6 linked regions of the Homo sapiens genome follow. The protein of the gene in region 2 interacts with the protein of the main gene of each other region in a pairwise test. Each region holds a gene or a part of one and is shown on either strand. Other genes may lie near its edges. The genes, in order: CD19, ECT2, CCDC91, OOSP2, SPATA22 and CHST10.

The links.
Region 1: the proteins of ECT2 (region 2) and CD19 interact in a two-hybrid assay, tested with the Homo sapiens proteins (one large-scale study listed by BioGRID).
Region 3: the proteins of ECT2 (region 2) and CCDC91 interact in a two-hybrid assay, tested with the Homo sapiens proteins (one large-scale study listed by BioGRID).
Region 4: the proteins of ECT2 (region 2) and OOSP2 interact in a two-hybrid assay, tested with the Homo sapiens proteins (one large-scale study listed by BioGRID).
Region 5: the proteins of ECT2 (region 2) and SPATA22 interact in a two-hybrid assay, tested with the Homo sapiens proteins (one large-scale study listed by BioGRID).
Region 6: the proteins of ECT2 (region 2) and CHST10 interact in a two-hybrid assay, tested with the Homo sapiens proteins (one large-scale study listed by BioGRID).

Annotation. Positions count from the first base shown.
Region 1 is NC_000016.10:28,934,971-28,937,406, reverse strand, and holds part of CD19 (B-lymphocyte antigen CD19 isoform 2 precursor), read right to left. Parts: intron 1,978-2,436; coding exon of another isoform or gene 1,964-1,977; coding exon 1,853-1,963; intron 1,255-1,852; coding exon 1,206-1,254; intron 896-1,205; coding exon 807-895; intron 385-806; coding exon 271-384; intron 137-270; coding exon 32-136; intron 1-31. UniProt on the Homo sapiens protein: Functions as a coreceptor for the B-cell antigen receptor complex (BCR) on B-lymphocytes. Decreases the threshold for activation of downstream signaling pathways and for triggering B-cell responses to antigens.
Region 2 is NC_000003.12:172,764,226-172,767,725, reverse strand, and holds part of ECT2 (protein ECT2), read right to left. Parts: intron 3,449-3,500; coding exon 3,226-3,448; intron 1-3,225. UniProt on the Homo sapiens protein: Guanine nucleotide exchange factor (GEF) that catalyzes the exchange of GDP for GTP. Promotes guanine nucleotide exchange on the Rho family members of small GTPases, like RHOA, RHOC, RAC1 and CDC42.
Region 3 is NC_000012.12:28,193,456-28,196,955, reverse strand, and holds part of CCDC91 (coiled-coil domain-containing protein 91), read right to left. Parts: intron 1-3,500. UniProt on the Homo sapiens protein: Involved in the regulation of membrane traffic through the trans-Golgi network (TGN). Functions in close cooperation with the GGAs in the sorting of hydrolases to lysosomes.
Region 4 is NC_000011.10:60,043,409-60,045,976, reverse strand, and holds part of OOSP2 (oocyte-secreted protein 2 precursor), read right to left. Parts: intron 2,509-2,568; coding exon 2,330-2,508; intron 1,307-2,329; coding exon 1,203-1,306; intron 1-1,202. UniProt on the Homo sapiens protein: Involved in oocyte maturation.
Region 5 is NC_000017.11:3,447,820-3,451,319, forward strand, and holds part of SPATA22 (spermatogenesis-associated protein 22), read right to left. Parts: intron 1,331-3,500; coding exon 988-1,330; intron 1-987. UniProt on the Homo sapiens protein: Meiosis-specific protein required for homologous recombination in meiosis I.
Region 6 is NC_000002.12:100,414,869-100,419,032, forward strand, and holds the start of CHST10 (carbohydrate sulfotransferase 10), read right to left. Parts: upstream 2,801-4,164; 5' UTR 2,506-2,800; exon of another isoform or gene 1,355-2,505; intron 244-1,354; 5' UTR 173-243; intron 1-172. UniProt on the Homo sapiens protein: Catalyzes the transfer of sulfate from 3'-phosphoadenylyl sulfate (PAPS) to position 3 of terminal glucuronic acid of both protein- and lipid-linked oligosaccharides.

The sequences.
Region 1 (2,436 bases), on a different chromosome or scaffold from region 2:
GGTGGGGGGCCACGGGGGAGGGCAGCCTTACCCTGGGAGAGCTGGTCCTGCCCAAGGTTGGAGTCGTTCTCATAGAACTCGGAGTCCTCCTCACTGTCAGGTTCCTCATAGCCCTCCCCTTCCTCTTCTTCTGGGCCTGGGGGTTTGGGGATGGGGATGGGGAACCGAGTCATGCCCCCTCTCCTCCAGGGCCCAGTCCACTATTCGGGCCACAGACCGCTCCAACCCCCTCCATGTGGGGAACGACCCTTCCCTCTCCCAGTCATTCACCCACTCCCGGCGGGCTCCGGGACCCCAAGGCTCCATCCGCCTGGACGTCGCTGCTCGGGTTTCCATAAGACGGGGCAGTGCCCCCCAGGCCTGCGGCCCAACGCTGGGCGCGTCCTGGTGAGAGGGGCATTGTAAGACGGGGTCAGAAGAGATGGGGGCGGTCAAGGCTAAGGGTCCGCGCGGCGGGGCACGGGAAGAGGATGTTTTGGGCTCTGCGAATGGACTCTGGGTCTAGGAACCCGGCCTTGAACCCTGGGGCGGAATCTAAATCTAGGGCCGAGGCCTTCAGTTCTGGGGCGAAGTTCTGCTCTTGATTACGACTTCAGGCTCTGGGTCCTGGGGGCGTGGCTCTGAGCCCTGGAGGCGGGGTCTGGTTCTAGAGGCGGGGCTCATAGCTGGGCGGGACTCCCCGCCCCGGGGGCGGAGTTCCGAGCTCCAGAAGGCTTGGCGCACAGCGGATTGGAGGGATGAGGAGAGTGGGGGTGGAGCCCCGGATCTGGGGCGGAGCTATAGGCTGGAGGGGCGGTGCCTCTTACCGAGGCCTGAGGTGGGTGTGGGGAGAGACAGCACGTTCCCGTACTGGTTCTGGGGCCCGCTTCCTGGGGGAGGCGTCACTTTGAAGAATCTGGCGGGAGAAGAGGAAGTGCACGGTGAGGGCCGACTTGGAATGGAATGGCGGACCCACTCAAGATTCTGTCCAGGCCTTCAGAAGTTAAACGTGATCACTTGTGCTGGGACAGCCAATAGAGGAGTCTGAGATGATCATTTCCAAGGAGTTCTTCACAGAGGAGGTAGCTTTGGAGCTGGGCTTTGAGGTTGGGCAGTATTTGAAACAGTAGAGACGGAGCAAAGAACCCCTGGGCAGAGGAAACAGTAAGTGCAAGGCATAAAGTGAAGGTGGAGGGTGTTACCGCGGGGTGCACTGGTTGCATTACCTCCTGGTGGGGTCAGTCATTCGCTTTCTTTTCCTCCTCAGGACCAGGGCTGGTGGGAGTTAAAGGGCGTGATCAGAGGAGGGGCTGCTTGGCAGGGTGAGGATTTGTGGGGCCAGGTGCTGGGGAGGTCACTTGGTTCAACAAAGGAGACAGGAGTTCAAATTGCGAGGCGGACGGGCGCGGTGGCTCGTGCCTGTAATCCCAGCACTTTGGGAGGCCGAGGTGGGCGGATCATTTGAGGTCAAGAGTTCGAGACCAGTCTGGCCAACATGGTGAAACCTCGTCTCTACTAAAAATATAAAAAATTGGCCGGGTGTGGTGGCATACACTTGTAGTCCCAGGTACTCGGGAGGCTGAAGCACAAGAATCACTTAAGCCTGGGAGGCAGAGGTTACAGTGAGCTCAGATTGTGCCACTGCACTCCAGCTGGGGTGACAGAATGAGACCCTGTCTCAAAAAAAAAAAAAAAATTGCAAGAGGCTTGGGAAGTTTGAGGGAGGCTAGAGGAAGACTGGGGAGAACAGGATTCTGGGGTCTTGAAGGGAGGGATGGGAGGAAAGAAAGATGGTTGTCAGACTGGCCAGAGCCGGCTTATCCTGGGGAAGATGGAGTAGGGTTTGGACAGACCCACTGGGGACATGACTCACCTCTTTGAAGATGAAGAATGCCCACAAGGGAACACAGGCAGAAGATCAGATAAGCCAAAGTCACAGCTGAGACCTTCCAGCCACCAGTCCTCAGCAGCCAGTGCCATAGTACTAGGGGGAAGGGGCTATGAGACGAGGACCCCAGGCTGGCATCTTACGTCCCAATCCTGAGATCTCAAGGAACCGCAAGTCTGAGGCACAGAGGCAAGACACAGACTCGGCCGGGCGCGGTGGTTGACGCCTGTAATCCCAGCACTTTGGGAGGCAAAGGCGGGTGGATCACCTGAGGTCAGGAGTTCGAGACCAGCCTGGCCAACATGGTGAAACCCCATCTCTACTAAAAATACAAAAAAATTAGCTGGGCATGGTGGTGGGTGCCTGTAATCCCAGCTACTTGGGAGGCTGAGGCAGGAGAATCGTTTGAACCCGGGAGGCGGAGGTTTCAGTGAGCCGAGATCACTGCACTCCAGCCTGGGCAACCACAGCAAAACTCCGTCTCAAGAAAAAAAAAAAGACACAGACTCAAAGTCCCAAGCTGTGAGAAAGGCTCTCCTCTCTCTAAGGAGCCATGTCCCAGGAGGTCA
Region 2 (3,500 bases):
ATCTATACACATATCTATAGATATATATACATCTTTTTAATGTATAAAAGCTTAAAATCTGTTTTCTTACTGTTAATATGGTTAGAATACTTTAACATTATATATAGAAGCACCTAATAGCAAGTTTTTCAACAGGAAAAGGAATGTATGACATAAAATAGAAATAGGTGACAAAGAACCATAATATATATTTCCAGCACATCAATTTTACTCAATGATAAACAATTTTAAATGCTTTTATATGAAAACAATTATGTACTATGGAGTTCTGAGTGCTTTTTTTTGGAGATGGAGACTCACTCTGTCCCCCAGGCTGGAGTGCAGTGGTGCCATCTCGGCTCACTGCAACGTCCACTTCCCGGGTTCAAGTGATTCTCCTGCCTCAGTCTCCTGAGTAGCTGGGATTACAGGCGCACACCACCACACCCTGCTGATTTTTGTATTTTTAGTAGAGATGGGGTTTCACCATGTTGGTCAGGCTGGTCTCGAACTCCTGAACTCGTGATCTGCCCTCCTCAACCTCCCAAAGTGCTGGGATTACAGGCGTGGGCCACCGCGCCCAGCCCCTGAGTGCTTTTTAAAAAAAACAGAATCTCAAAAAATTTCCCACTTGTCAAACATTATTTTAGGCTACACTCACCAGACCCAGAAGCCTCTGCCATTACAGAATATACTTCAGTGGGAAAAAATTGAGATGCACTGATCTAATTTAATTATTCTGTGTCTAGACAATGACCTACAAACTGGGGAATCTATTTTACAGAGCACCTAAAATATCAGTATAGTTGTCACATCTGTTTACTTCGGTGGTTCATTTTGTTCTCTTGTCTCCTAAAATGCATATTCAAGTTTCAGTCCTTTATGTTCTCCTCTTACCATCCCATGCTATTGTCCATTATGATTATAAAACTAGTACATTCTCAGATCTAATCATGATCTCCCTCTCAAGCTGGTTCAACTTTTCCAAATGCTTACTGGATAGTTCTGCCTTAATGTAACTTGGATTTCTCTAAAACTTCACTACCTCCCTCCAAAATATAAATTTCCTATCCATGCCAAGGCAACATTTCTTTCATTTAAATTAGTAATTTGCCTTCATCTCTTTTTATTTCCTCCCTATTGCTTTATTCTACCAATATTTCTCCAGTGCTTCTTACTTTTCTTTCCAACCACCACATACTCTGGTTCAGCACCTTATTATTTCATGGCCGAAGCGATTGTAATAGATTACATCATGGTCTGACTGTCTCCAAACTGCCTTCCTTCTAATCATTCTTCAGAACAACTCTCTATGAATTATCTATTCAATCAATTTCTCTGCTGCTCAAGGAGTTTCTAAAATTCCTTGTTGATGACAATATACAGTTCAGATATTACAGTCTTATTTGAAAGTGACCTAATATTAGGCCTCAATTAACATTTTTAACTTTTATTCCTCCACATTCCAAGCAAACTGATCTATCCATTATTCTCTAAAAACTCAGTTTGTATGCTATTATCTGTATATTTGCTCCTCTTTATATTCTCAAATTCATTTCAAATTTCTGGGCCAACCTTGAATTCACTTTCAGTTCTTCCCTTAAGTATTTAGTGAATACCCACTTTATACTAGGGTCTGAGGATAAACACAGAATAAGACAGACAAGGTTCATTTTCTCTTAAAGATTACTTATTTGAAGCAAATCAAATAATAAAGAAGTAAACAAGTACTGTAATTTCTATCGTAAGAACTACTACTAAAAACAACTACCAGGTCACAGGATTGGCAGAAAGGAGTGGAGGGATTTAACTTTACAGACAATCCACGCAGATTTCCTTGAGGCAGAGAAAGTAACAAAGTCCTGAGGTATGGATGTACTAAAAATATTTGAAGAATAACAAAGATGGTATGACTGAAGCTTAGAGAGTACAGGCATTATTAGAGAGCATAATACCACATGAGATTAGGCAGATGAGGGCAAGATTACATAGGGACTTAAAAGCTACAGTAATAGAAAGCCATTAAGTGATTTTAAAGCAGAGGAGTGGCATCATCTAATTTATATATTTTTAAAGATTTTTCTAAGTGTTGCATATAGAAAGGCACAAATTAAAAGGGAGAGACTATTTAGGAGACTACTGCAATCATCTAAGAGAGATCCTTTTTACAGAAAAGACTGATGAAGAGGAGCAAAGGAACAGAGGAATTAAGAGTGGCAGAATCCAAAGGTCTAATTTGGTTATCTTAGGTTTAAGATATCTATTAGACATGGACAAGGAAGTACAAAGTAGGTAGCTTGACAGGGAAGAGGACAAATTTGGGAGTCATCAGCATACAAATGCTTTTCAAAACCATAGATTTTACTACGATAATTTAGGGAGAGTACAATAGAGAAGAAACAATGACTCAGGAGGAACATACAACATTTAGAATTGAAAAAAAGAAGTTAGGCCAAGGAGAATGAGAAATGAGTAAGTAATATCACAGAAGCAAAGAAAAAAAATTGTGTCCATAAAGGAGTAGCTATTCATGTGTTGAATGCATAAAAACTGTCTCCCCAACAAGGACTGCAGATCAGTTGGAATGCGTTGAAAGGACAACGAGAATCAAGGAAATGAGACAATAGATCAAAGTAATTCTTTTAAGTATGCTGATGTGAAAGCAAACAGAAAAATGGGACAATAAGTGAAAAGTGTCATGAGGTCCGGAGGAGATTTTGATTTTTTTTGTTTCTTAAATCTAGAAAACACATTTGTTTACAGACTAAAAATCAAAAAGAAAGGGAAATACTGATAACCAAGGAAGAATTATAGGAGCCTTTCTGTATCAGTTCAGCACAAAGTGAACTCACCCTCCTCTGACTTCATTCTACCTATTTTCTCCATAATTTATGTGACCTCCCCTGTGACTTTGTTTGCTTTTTGAACAGCACTATCACTCTCTAGTTATATGACCCTGGAGAAATTACTTAACTTCTCTGTATCTCAGTTTAGTCATCTGTAAAACAGGAATAATAAAATCTATTATAAACACACAAAACGTATAAAGCATTTAGCATGTAGTAAGCAGTCATTAAATTGCAACATTATTAAGCTTAACTATTCATGTGTCTTTTCTCTACAGCTAGAACAAAGGTAATTAAAGGCAAAGACTTCCATATTCACTATATCAGGGATTTATCTAAATTCTAACAATTATTCCATTCCACTAAACTTTAAAGACAAGTTTTTAAGAATGTGAATTACCTCCATAGTTAATGCTAGACTCTGGTGTGTTGGAGATATCTAGGAGTGACCCTATGGAAAGGGAATGCTCAGCTGATGGGCGCTTACGGGGTGGAAATGGTGACACGTCTGTCTCTCTTGAAAGCTGAGCAAGTGTTTCTTTTAAACGACGTCGTTTGCGATTGCTGTTAGGGGTATTTAGAGAAAGCATTGACACTGATTTCTTGAGCTCAGGAGTATTTGCCTGTAATCAAAAGCACACAAGCTCAATTTACTTCCATGGTTCTTTACTGAGA
Region 3 (3,500 bases), on a different chromosome or scaffold from region 2:
TATAACACAATAACCCATAACCATTACAAATCAAGTTTTCAAAATAATTCATGATGCAAGTACTCCCAATGTGATTCTGAGTGAAAAGGGCAAAATATAAAACAATATTAACAATTTTGTTTTTAAAATATATTTGCAAAAGAAAAGACTGAAAGAAAAGCCACCACAATGTTTGCAGCAGTTACCTCAGATTACTGAAAATAGGGTAACTTTTTTTATAGTCTTCCTTTATTTCCAACTTTCTACTGTAATCAACTATCATGTTCACAATCAAAAAAAGCAATATAACATTCACTTGTGATTAAATTTTAAAGCTCTAAGCAGGAGTTAAAGAGAACTTCCTTGGCTGGGTCAAAATGATATCCACAAAAAACTTACAGCTAACTACTCAATGGTAAAAGACTGTATACCTTCTCTACTAAGATGAAGAGCAATGCAAGGATATCTGTGCTGATCTGACTTGTTCTAGTTAACATTAGCAAAGGTCCTAGCCAGTGCAAAGAGACAAGAAAACAAAATAAAAGGCAAACAAATGAGAAAATGTGAAATAAAGCTGTCTCTACCAGCAGACAGCAGTAGCTACAAAAGCTACTAGAACGAACTCGTGAGTTTAACAAGGTTGTAAAATTCAAAAATTCAAGATCAATATTAAAATACTGATTCACTTACATAAGTAATTGGAAATTTAAAAATTTTTAAAGGTTACTGTTTACAACAGAACCAAACAACATAAAACATTTAGATACAAACATAACAAAATATGCGCAACATTTTTATGCGGAAAGCTTAAAAACAGAGAGAAATCAAAGACCAAATAAACGTAGAAAGGTTGTTTCATTTTGTTTTCTCTCTTGAAAGAGGCTCTCTCTGTTGCAGAGGCTAGAGTGCAGTGGCATGATCACAACTCACTGCAGCCTCTACCTCCCAGGCTCAATCAATCCTCCCACCTCAGCCTTCCAAGTATCAGGGACTACAGGTGCATGGCAACACACCCAGCTAATTTTTCTCATTTTTGTAGAGATGCGGTTTTGCCATGTTGTCCAAGCTGCTCTTGAACTCCTGGGCTCAAGCGATCCTCCCACCTTGACCTCCCAAAGTGCTGGGATTACAAGCATGAGCCATAGCAGTGGGACAGGAAAGGTATTTTATTAATGGATTAGAAAACAACATTTTTAAGATGTCAATTCTCCCCAAATGGATCCATAACTTCAATGCAATCATACTAAAAATTCCACAATGCTTTTATATAGAAATAAAGAGATTCTAAAATGTACATGGAAAGAAAAAGAACTCGAATACTCAAAAATTTTTGGCAAACAACAACAAAGTTGGAGGACTCAGGCTTTTTGACTTCAAGATACACTATAACGCTACCATAATAAGGACTGAGGTTTTAGCCAAACAGACGCACAGAACAATGGAACAAAATAGAGTCCACAAAGCAAACCACACAAACATACTCAACTGATTTTTAACAAGGCAAGCCAAAGAAATTTAATGAAGAAAAGATAGTAATGAGAGGTGAAGCCGGCTGGACTTCCGGGTCAGGTGGGGACTTGGAGAACTTTTCTATCTAGCTAAAGGATTGTAAATGCACCAATCAGAGTCTGTGTCTAGCTAACAGTTTGTAAACGCACCAATCAGCACTCTGTGTCTAGCTAATCGGGTAGGGGACTTGGAGAACTTTTCTGTGTAGCTAAAGGATTGTAAATGCACCAATCAGCGCTCTGTGTCTAGCTAAAGGTTTGTAAATGCACCAATCAACACTCTGGCAAAACGGACCAATCAGCACTCTGTAAAACGGACCAATCAGCACTCTGTAAAATGGACCAATCAGCTCTCTGTAAATGGACCAATCTGCAGGATGTGAGTGGGGCCAAATAAGGGAATAAAAGCAGGCCACCCGAGCCAGCAGCAGCAACCCCTTCGGGTCCCCTTCCATGCTGTGGAAGCTTTGTTCTTTCACTGTTCGCAATAAATCTTGCTGCTGCTCACTCTTTGGGTCCGCACTATCTTTATGAGCTGTAACACTCACAGTGAAGGTATGCAGCTTCACTCCTGAAGCCAGCGAGACCACGAACCCACCAGGAAGAACGAACAACTCCGGACACGCCACCTTTACGAGCTATAACAATGAGCTGCAACACCCACCACAAAGGTCTACAGCTTCACTCCTGAGGCCAGCGAGACCACAAACCCACTGGGAGGAACAAACAACTCAGGACACGCCACCTCTATGAGCTGTAACACTCACCGCAAAGGTCTGCAGCTTCACTCCTGAAGCCAGCAAGGCCACAAACCCACCAGGAGGAATGAACAATTTCGGATGCAGCTTCACTCCTGAAGCCAGCAAGGCCACAAACCCACCAGGAGGAATGAACAATTTCGGATGCGCCACCTTTAAGAGCTGTATCACTCACTGCAAAGGTCTGTGGCTTTGCTCCTGAAGTCGGCAAGACCATGGACCCACCAGAAGGAAGAAACTCCAGACACATCTGAACTTCTGGAGGAACAAACTCCGGACACACCATCTTCAAGAACTGTAACACTCACTGCGAGGGTCCGTGCCTTCATTCTTGAGGTCAGCAAGACCAAGAACCCACTGGAAGGAACCAATTCTGGACACAGTAAGAATAGTCTTTTTCAAGAGATGGTGCTGCAAGACTGGGGCATCCATACACACACACACAGAGAGAGAAAGAGAGAGAGAGAGTCTTGACCCCTACCTCACACTATATGCAAAAATTAACTCGAAATTGGTCACAGACCTAAATCTAAAATTTAAAGCTATAAAAGTTCTGGAAGAAAACATAAGAAAAAAAATCTTTGCAACGTTGGATTAGGCAAAATTTCTCATGATAAAAAAGCACAAATCATAAGAGAAAAAACTGATAAACTGGACTTCACCAAAATTTAAAACTTCTGCTCTTTGAAAGATACTGTTAAGAAAATGAAAGGACAAACTACAGACTCAGACTCGAAGGAAATGCTGTGAACATATATACGATAATGAATTTGTATCCAGACTGTATAAAACACTTGCAAACCAATAACAAACAACCCTATTAAAAACGAACAAACGATTTCAGCAGACACTTAATCAAAGAAGATACACAGATGGCAAATAATAGCACAGGAAAAGACGCTCAATATGTTAGAAGAAAAATTCAAATTAAAACATAAATGGGTTTTCACTAAACGCATATTAGAATAGCTAACATTAAAAATAAAATGACAAGTGCTGACCAGAATGTGGAGCAACTGGAACATCAAACATCACTTGCGGGAATGCAAAATGAAACAGCTACCTTGGAAAACAGTTTGGTAATTTCCTTCTTTTTTTTTTTTTTGTTTTTGAGACGGAGTTTCACTCTGTCACCAGTCTGGAGTGCAGTGGCACGATCTTAGCTCACTGTAACCTCCGACTCCCTGGTTCAAGCAGTTCTCCTGCCTCAGCCTCCTGAGTAGCTGGGATTACAGGCACCCGCAACCACGCCCAG
Region 4 (2,568 bases), on a different chromosome or scaffold from region 2:
GAGAAACAGGGACAGACCAGAAAGACAGGGACAGACAAGGACAGAGACAGAGATAGAGACAGAGAATCAAGGGGTGGTTTCTATTTAGAGTTCAGCTATGTTCCTGAATATCACTAAATCCCTCAGCCTTTATGAAAATAAGTTAAAGGGAAGAGTAAAAGTATTATGAAAATACTTTATGAAAATAAGTTAAAGGGAAGAGTAAAAGTATTAACAATGTGAATGGACTTAATGCCACTGAACTGTACACTTAAAATGGTATCTTAGATTATGTACATTTTACCAAAATTAAAAGATTTGTACATTTTCCCAAAATTAAAAAAGATTATATACATTTTAACAAATTTACAACTTGTACAAATGTACAAGATTATGTATATTTTACCAAAATTAAAAAAAAATTCTGCCTCTCCTTGAGAAAAAGTACTATAATCACATTAAGACATTGCACATTGGCTGAGCTCTAAATTCTTATTTTGATGTCAACTATTTTCACATATTAAGCAAGGATAAAAATTTTCCTGTGGTTTTGAGATAGTTTCCAAGGTTCTTCACTCAGATTTATAAGACTTAACATAAATATTTCAATGGCATGGCAAAAAAAAAAAAAGTGTATCAGGATACCTTTCCACTTAGTCTCAAAGTTCACACGAGGCTCTTGGGATTCAATATCTCAGTTCCACAAAATTGCAAGCAAAGTACATTTAATAATTAGGCTGATAAGCCCTCCCTTCATGTATTCTCCATGAGTTAGTATTAAATGAAGGACTGATTTTCTTATGTTTTTAGCCACTTACTCTTATAAGATGAAATTGAGCAATAAAATGTATCAGAATATTATAAAAGACAAAACATTGAAAGATAATATCAGTGCTTAATCCTATCACTTACTAAAGGTGACAGAGTATTTAATGACTCTGCTTTGTAGTTGAGTTATTATAAAATAACATAGTTACACTAGATTGTTAGGACCATTATAAATCTATATGTTTTTATTCTAAAATAAACATTACATTCAAAATATTAAAACATTTTAAAGTACTCATTAAAATATTTGTGTAAATACTAATTTGGGGTTTGTTTACAATTATACTTATGGGTGAATCATGTTATATTCTCTAAAGTCTATGCTTCTGCAGAAGCTTCTCATAAGCAAAGGTAAAGCTAAAACATTCCAAAGGAATCAAATCTGCTGGACTTACCTAGAGGTGGAACACTCCAAATGGATTTCCTGAGGGTCATGATCTATATTCCTTGGGGTAAAGTACAGCTCGGTTTGAAAAAGGAGAGTTTCCTCAGAAACTACCTAGGAGAGCATGAAGTTTCAGTGGAAGATATTTGGAGTAACAGATGAGGAATACACACACTTGAATAGGATGTAAAAAACATTCATGATCTCAAAAATGGCTACTGTCATTCTTAAATATAAATAAAGATATGACAACTCACTGGGACAGAAGAGGAGTGTTATCCCTAAGAGTGAATTTAAAATGCCTGGGGGCAAAACAATCTTAATTCATTGCAGCAAATTTAAACTGCCGCTTACAGCCATCTTTATGATTCATTAATGAAAAGGTTTCCAACAGTTCCTTTGAGAAAGGTGATTTGTAAGTCAAATAACGGAGAGTGGTTTAAAGCACAAGCTTCGGAGAGTATTCATCCTGGTTTGGTATCTAAACTACCACCAACAAGCAGTGCATCCCTGGAAAAGCTGGTAAAGCACCTTCTGAAGCTCCAAGTTCCCAATTTCTAAAATAAAATACTTTATTCAAAAATGATTGTTATTATCATTGGTCACTGGCCCAAAATATTTGTGTAGTGTGAATATAAATTGCTTAAATTTGGGAATCTGTGAGAAGATAATATCCCAGGATAACAACGCAATTTAGGATTTGTGCCTAGCTGAATGACAAGAGATTTCATTTCAATGAAAATCCACTATATATTTACACAAATCCTCATGGAACATGGATAGATTTCAAATGACCTAACATTGAACATGATGGAGCTTCCCAAGATTGGTGACCTTCCACATTAGAAGAATCACACAAAATTTAAAGCAGTCTGCTAATATTTAGTAAAATATAATAGTAGCCTAAGGGCAACTTAGAATCAGTTCCCTAGCCAATTTATAAATCTGTGATCTAAGGTCCTGTGCACACAGAATGACCCAATATTCAGTGAAAAATAATGATAAATTCCGTTGTCCCCTGCCCATAAATTACTACAATGAGAAGCAAACATTATTTTTTTAAAAGACAATTTTAATACTAGGCATAAAAGTCTGACAAAACATGCAGTATTTTTTACAAACAATCACTGTTCTTACCCTTGTCCTGATGCCACAATCACGAACAAGATATATAAACTCATATACATATGTATGTATCCGATTTGCAGGGCAGCCCATTCCCAGATGTAATTCATCCGCAAATATATACAGATTTCTGCTTTCTGCAACTGGGATAACTGAGACCATCAACCAGTCCAGAGAGCAACTTATTTTCACTGTGGAAAGAACCATATGAAAAGCATCAGAAGGGTGTCTATCTTAAGAAAGTGTTCAAA
Region 5 (3,500 bases), on a different chromosome or scaffold from region 2:
CCTTTCCTCCCACCCTATGATGTCGTACCAGTGACTCCTACTGGCTGACCTCTAGCAAAAGCCAGCAAGTAAACAATCTCAGGATGATGCACTACATAGGACAGTTCAGCCTTCCACAACAGAGAAGGGCAGGTGAAGAATCAAGTGGGCCAAGGGGCCAGGGAGCAGAGATGAGGAATAACCAGCACACATAATATATAAATAACATTTACAAAGAGCAATCAGAGCACTGAGCGTAGAGAGGAAGTACAGTTGAGATACAGGTATAGGGAAGAATATAAACCAAAGCACAGAGTGTATGCTATGTTTAGAGAATTGTGACGAGTCTGAAGTGGCTAGAGCATTGGACAATTAGTAGACTATGAAATATGAGGCTACAAAGGTAGACTAGGACAAGATCATAAAGCAAAGGTCATAATAAGTTGATCATAAAGAAAACTATGGCCTGCAGTGCAAATCTAACCTGCTATCTATTTGTGTAAACATTTGTTGGAGGAGAGCAGTGTCCATTCATTTATGTATTGCTTATGGCTGCTTCCAAGCTACAGTGGCAGAGTTGAGTAGTATTGCTGAGTAGCTGCAACAGAGACAGTACGGCCCATAAAGCCAAAAATACTGTCTGGCCCTTTAAGAAAAATGTTTGCTGACCTCTGTTGAAAAATACTTAGAATGACATATCAAGAGCCTGGGTAACTTCATAAACAATGGATAAACTGTCTTTATCTTTAAAATGAGTGTAAAGTGAAAGTCAGAATCCAGCAGAAAACTCTAAAGTTTGAAAGGAAAAGGAGCAGCCATTCATACCCTCTAAGAAAATATTTTGGAAACTAACATTCATCCACTTCAATGGAACTGAATATTTATGCTAATCAAGTAATGTATGTCATGGAATTTATTTCAGGCGCTCTTATCTCTGTAGTTTTCTAAATATTTACCTCATATTTTTAAAAATGTAAATAAGTCATTAATTTGTATTTAAACATTTACCTTCAGGGTGTTGTCTTCTGGAATATCATCCAACATTTGTTTCTTATATTGATTTTGTTGAAAATTGGGCTTAAGTGTCTGTAGTGCACTGTTTTTGTCTAGCCCTCTCATTGTGCAGCCAGATATTTTTGATGAATGTGTTTGTCTGAGTAGCTCGGTTTCTTTGTTGCGAGATAAGTTAGGAGGTTCAGGTATTCTTAATTGTTTTTGTTGTTGAGCTCCCGAACTCACTGGACAAGAATTTTTTCCATCATTTGCCACTAAGTTTGTTCGTTTACATTGAGGCTTAAAATCATTTTTATTCCAAGTTTTCAAGCTGGTATTTTTGTTACCATCTCTGTAGCTGTAATAGTGCAAAAAAAAAGCATTTGTTTCTATATGGTTTCTTAATTACAAAAAAAATTAATAATGAAAAATTCATTTATATGGCAATTTATGACTTAGAAAGCACTTTATAACTAACTACTGAGAAATTCCAAATACATCACAACAACCCTACAATGTTGTACTACCTCTCTTTCCAGATGAGAAGACTGATCCCTAATGAGGAATTAACTTGTCCAAAGTCATACAGGAAATTACTCACAAGTCTAGAACCCAGGAAATACAAGATCTCCCAACTCAGAGTCTAGTACTACAAAGTATATTTTTAAATGATAGCATTCTTCATATGATAGTAGTTGTATCCAAGTGGTAAGACTTTGAGGGCATTTACTTGCTTCTTTATATATTCAATTTTAAAATTTTCTACAAAGTAAAATTTTAAGAAGTTAAACTGTGGCTTAGCAATGATTTTAAATCACAAGGAGAATACATATAAGCAGGATAGATAGCTATTAATATTTGATTAGAAATTTTGTGGTTTTACTGCACAGCTTAAAAGCCCTATAATGTATTTGGTACAGCATTTGTCAGCAACATTAAGTGTGTTATATCAGCTGACCAGAACATTATGCTAGATGCTAATGAGGCCAAAATCAAAAGCATAATTTCTGAGCAGCCTAGTTAGGAGTTCCACAGGAAACAAAACTAGTCTAAGTCACGAATTTTTTTTTTTTCTCTTGGAGACAGGGTCTCGTTCTGTTACCCAGGCTGGAATGTAATGGCAAGAACACAGCTCACTCTAGCATCAATCTCCCAGGCTCAAGCGATCCTCCCACCTCAGCCTCCTGAGTAGCTGGAACTACAGGTGAGTGCCACTATGCCCAGCTAATTTTTGTTATTTTTTGTAGAGACAGGGTTTCACCACGTTGCCCAAGCTGGCCACAAACTCCTGGGCTCAAGTGATCCACCTCCTTGGCCTCCCAAAGTGCTGGGGCTAGAGGCATAAGCCACCATTCCCAGCCCACAAATTCTTAATTCTCAGTAATTTTCCTGGAAATACCACAAGTATCACAAGAGGGCAACCAATACAACCCATCCCCTACTTAGGTAAATAATCCAAAAAGAGGTCTAGGTACACTGCTGACCAGGAACAAATCCAAGTTTTATGAGGTCTGAAGCTTGTATAATTTGGGGAACACTGTTAATTGGGTACAAAGTTAGTACAAAATAACGAGAAAAGAAAGCACAATTACAACAATTTAAGTTATAAACACCACAAACATCACGATACCCAGAAAAAAATTGTTAGAATTATTATAAATTAACTGCCTGATACTCCTTTATAGAAATTTTTTCCTACACTGATCACTTCTTCATACGACAATAATTTTGTAATTTTTTTGGACTCAGGCCAGTCTCAAACCCATGGGCACAAGTGATTCTCCTGCCTCAACCTCCAGAGTAGCTGGCACTACAGGTACGTACCATCACACGCAACAATTTTGTAATTTTATTTTCAATAAAGAGAACAGAAACACAATTTTGTCTTTCCTCACTCTCATGGTTATAGAAATTACTTTTATTATTCATAGTCTAGAAAAATTTATTTCAGCTTTACAACTCTCTGTTCAGCACATTTGTAGTAATGCCAAAGATCACTGATCACAGATCATCATAACAGATATAATAATAATGAAAAAGTTTGAAATATTGCAAGAAGTACCAAAATGTGACATAGAAACATGAAGTGAGCACATACTGTTGGAAAATGGCACCAATCGACTTGCTCAATGCAGGGTTACTACGAAACTTTGACTTGTAAAGAATGCAGTATCTGTGAAGTGCAATAAAGCAAAGTGCAACATAATAAGGTATGCCTATATGAGGAGAGGCTGAGTGGATTAAAGATCCAACTGTATGCTGTCTACAATGAACTCAGTTTAGATTCAAAGACACATAAAAGCTGAGAATAAAGGGATGGAAAAAGATATTCCATGCAAACAGCAACCAAAAGAAAACAGGGGTGGCTAAGTTTATGTCAGACAAAATAGACTTTAAGTTAAAAGTTGTTTCTAAAGACAAAGAAAGTCATTATATAATGATAAATGGGTAAATTCAATAGGAAGACATAAAAATTGTGAACATATATACATCCAATATCAGAGCACCTAAATATATAAAGCAAATAT
Region 6 (4,164 bases), on a different chromosome or scaffold from region 2:
AATCCCAGCCTCAGAGCATGCTCCTATTATTATATTTAAGGAAACGTTTCTAAGCACACATTTACATACTCCTAATCAAGAGTTTACAATCTGCACAGGCAAGAAAAAAGGCAGGAACAATACTGAATGGCATGCTCAAATAACTGATGAGCTCACATTCTCCTTCACGTACCTTCTGCAGCCTGGGGCTCACATTTCCTTGCTGTGTTTCCCCTGAACTGAGGTTCTTGGTTCCTCTTGTCACTGGATAGGAAAATTAAAAAAAAAAAAGCATTATTAAAAGTTACAAGATCAACTTACTTAATACAACTTGGTTTATACTTAGGAAGGAAATAGTGAACCATTTTGATGATTCAAATATATTTGGCAGAATGGGTCTCTTACAAAGGCAGGTTATATTTGGATTTCTTGGTAAATGAATATTCTAAATGTACCAAAACCACTAGCTGTTTAAAAGACTCTTCCATGTAACTTAGTGTGAAAAATGAAACATTTTTTGTAGCAAAAATAATCAAATCCAATTATGCCTGTTTCGTATGTTTGAAATAGTTATAGGATTCCTATACAAGATGATCAATTCTTCCAATGCAAAATGTTCTCTGGATTTTCGTACTCCTTACACCTTTAGCACCTGGAAAATTTTAGCCAAATGCCATATCATAAAAAACCAGAAACAAGCCAAAGTCATGGAATTAGATCATGGATTTAGGAGATCTACCAAAATAAACATACAACTCATTTAACATACAATAAAGCCCAAGCTGACTGGGACACATGCAGCACGGTCTCTCTCTGCCTCCCTTTACTCTAAGAACTCAATGCTAAAATTAAAAGCAATTTCCTATTATGTTGATTGAAAGATTAAGCTTTATATACAGTCATTCATCACTTAACAATAGGGATACCTTCTGAGAAATGTATCGTTAGGCGATGTTCTTCTGCAAACATCAGAGCGTTCTTACATAAACCTAGATAGTACAGCTAACCACACACCTAGGCTATATGGTACAGCTGACCACACACCTAGGCTATATGGAATCATCTATTGCTCCCGGGCTACTAACTTGTACTGCTGTTACTGTACTGAATACTGTAAGCATCTGTAATACAATGGTAAGTATTTGTGTATCTAAAATTAGAAAAGGTAGAGTAAAAATAAGGTAGTATAGTCTTATGGGACCACTGTTGTATATGTGGTCCATCATTGTTAGAAACATCATGTACGGCATTTGATGGTCCTCACATCCAGGTTATCCAGAAGTGTATGAAAAGAAAATGAACTCCTGGGTTTCTGCAATCTCTAAGGTCCTGCAACCACCTCTCTCCCCTGTTTCTATTCCTGGCTCTCTCTCACCTTTTTATTGTATGAACTCCTCAAACACTGAAAAATGATCCGAATATAACTGCAAGTTGCCTGTGATGTTTACAAATTCTTTCCTTTCTTTGTTCAGTTTTGCAAACACTCCAATTTTCATTTCAGCGAAGAAGAGAATTTTCTGCTCAGGTATTTCTTTGAGATTCTATTCTTCAGGGTCAAGAGCAATTCTGAATTCTGAATTCCAATTCTGAGCCAAGATGGACTAAGCTCTTAATTATAATGGGGAGGGAAGGGAAAAGACCACTTCTCTCTTTGTGTCTTTTCATTTTAACCCAGTCACTGAAAAGAGTGAAGGAGGAGGTGGTTGGTTATCAGAGAGCCAGAGCTAAACTGAGCTGCCTAATTTTAACAGCGTCTGAGACATTTCTCACTCTGGCACTCTAAGCAATGCAATAACCCAACTCCTCATGGCCCAAAGCCCCAGACTCTGGTTTTCAGACAAAACAACAACAACAACAACAACAACAAAAACCCACCGTTATGACAGTCCTGCCGCTGAGCTAACCAGAACCTGGCTGCACTACTTTCCATTCACTGCCCAACCCTTTCCTGCCTTGCAGACTTGGAAAGCAAAAATGACATTTTGGAAAACCTGGTTCACCTTCCCAGCCAGAAGTGCAGAACTGCATGCCTCAACCTCCAACTTCGGACAGGCCTCCTGACAGCGAAGATCAGAGGCTCAGGGCACCCCGGGGCCCCTCAGGCAGGGAACGTGCATTCCCACCCCTGACTCCCCTCGCACCGAAGCTGCACATGCTCCTTCTTCCCTGCCTTCCTCTGCATGCTCCTTGGACCCAAGCTGAACCCTTTCTTCCTCTCTCCATCTACAATTACAAACGCAAATTCTCAGCCAAGGATGAAAGAAGTAAATTGTAGGCTCGCACAATATCAATAATTCCGCGGGTCACAGCATCCCGCACAAGGACGCCTTCTTATTGCATAATTAACGCGAGGAAGGCTCTTCCCGCTACTCCCGCGAACTAGGGAGGTCTTCAAGTCGCCAAAACACACCGGGATGTGGCTCGCCAGGACAAAACCCGCGGGTTCCCCGGTTTTTCCGTGCGCCCCGCGGCGGGGAGAGGGGCCCAGGCGCTGAAACCCACCCGCCTGCGCGTCCCCGAGCTCACCCTACTGGAGCGGCGCTCGTCCGGGTCCTTAGGCTCCTCCCCTGGCCCTGGGGGCGCCGCGCGGGTCGGGCTTCGCCGGGCCTGTGGGCGAAGCGCGCGGGGTCCTGGGAGCTCGGGAGGCCCGCCCCACCTTGCCCCGAGGCCTCCGCGCCGCGGCCCGTCGGGTCCCGGGATGTGGCGGCGGCGGCAGCGGAAGTAAGGAAGACGCCCGGCGCGCTAGACCGGCTTTGGGGGCCAGAACGCCGGCACCGCCTCACGCGGCCCCCTCGCGCCTATCCGGCCGTGCGCGCCGCCTGCCCGCGCGCGTCCCCGCCGCCGTCCCCGGCCGTGCGCGTTCCAGCGGGTCGCGGGGAGTGGGGAGGGGCGCGGCCGCGGGACCCCAGGCCCGGATCCCGAGTCTCCCTTTCTGCCGCTGCAAAAGCGTTCTTTCTGACCGAGACCTGCGGCCGGAACAAGTCCCGCTGGGCCTCCATCCAGAAAACAGGTTCGCTTTTTGAGAAAGAAAAAAAATCCCAAACTTGGAAAAAGGCAAAAAACCAAACCAAAACAACAACAAAGTCACACACACACACAAAACCACCTTGGAAAAATACAAAAAATAGATAAGTAAATTTCTTAAATCCCCAACTTGGAAAAAGGCCACTTGCTTGCGTTAAGGGTAACTTCTAGCATTTTCTAATAAGCCTACTTAGTAAAAGGGGGACGTTCTATTCTTTAAAGAACCCCCTTGGCTGTCCGGGTTGGGGATGTAACTGTTGTCTAGGTACAGTGGATTAACGAAGGACAATGATAACGGCCTGACCAGTTTACAGACCTGAAGAATTGTAACTTCTTAACCTGCAGAAATGGATAAGGCCTGAGTCAACCTCAAAGGTATTGGGATTTTATTGCCCCAAAGAAGATAAACTAGTTTTATTTTTATACAACCTACATGTTTGTTAACTACCCGACTATATCTGTGTCTATTTAGCAAACAAGTAAAATAGATACGTGTATGTATACACACACACACACACACACACACAATTTTTCAAAGCTTTCAAGGAACAAGCGTTTTTGTTTTTGTTTTTTTTCTTTTTTATTGGTTCCCTCCTTAATGAGTTAATAATATTGAGGGAGCTGGCTGTTTGAGTATTTCACTTCTAGCCCCATTACTAATCATGGTTTAAAGGTTCTGTCCCTCATGCAGAAGACGTTTACTGAGCCCTTTTTTGGGGCCCTGTGGTTGAGATGAGACATTGGGTTTCCCTTTGAGGATTTGAATCGATACACGTGCACGGCAGAAAAGAAGTAAGTAAATGTGAAGCTTGGATGTGATGCAGCATATTATGCAGGATTTAAGGATCAAGGCTCTGGGAATCAGACCACGTGGATTCAGAGCCTTAGTCACTGCATATGACTGTTGACCTTGTCACACTCTCATCTCTCTGTGTCCCAGTCTTCTCATCTACAGAATGTGGTACTAGGCCGGGCGTGGTGGCTCACGCCTGTAATCCCAACATTTTGAGAGGCGGAGGTAGGTGGATCACCTGAGGTCGGGAGTTCGAGACCAGCATGACCAACATGGAGAAACCCTGTCTCTAATAAAACTACAAAAAAAATTAGCCAGGAGTGGGGGCACGTGCCTGTAATCCCAGCTGCTCGGGAGACTGAGGCAGG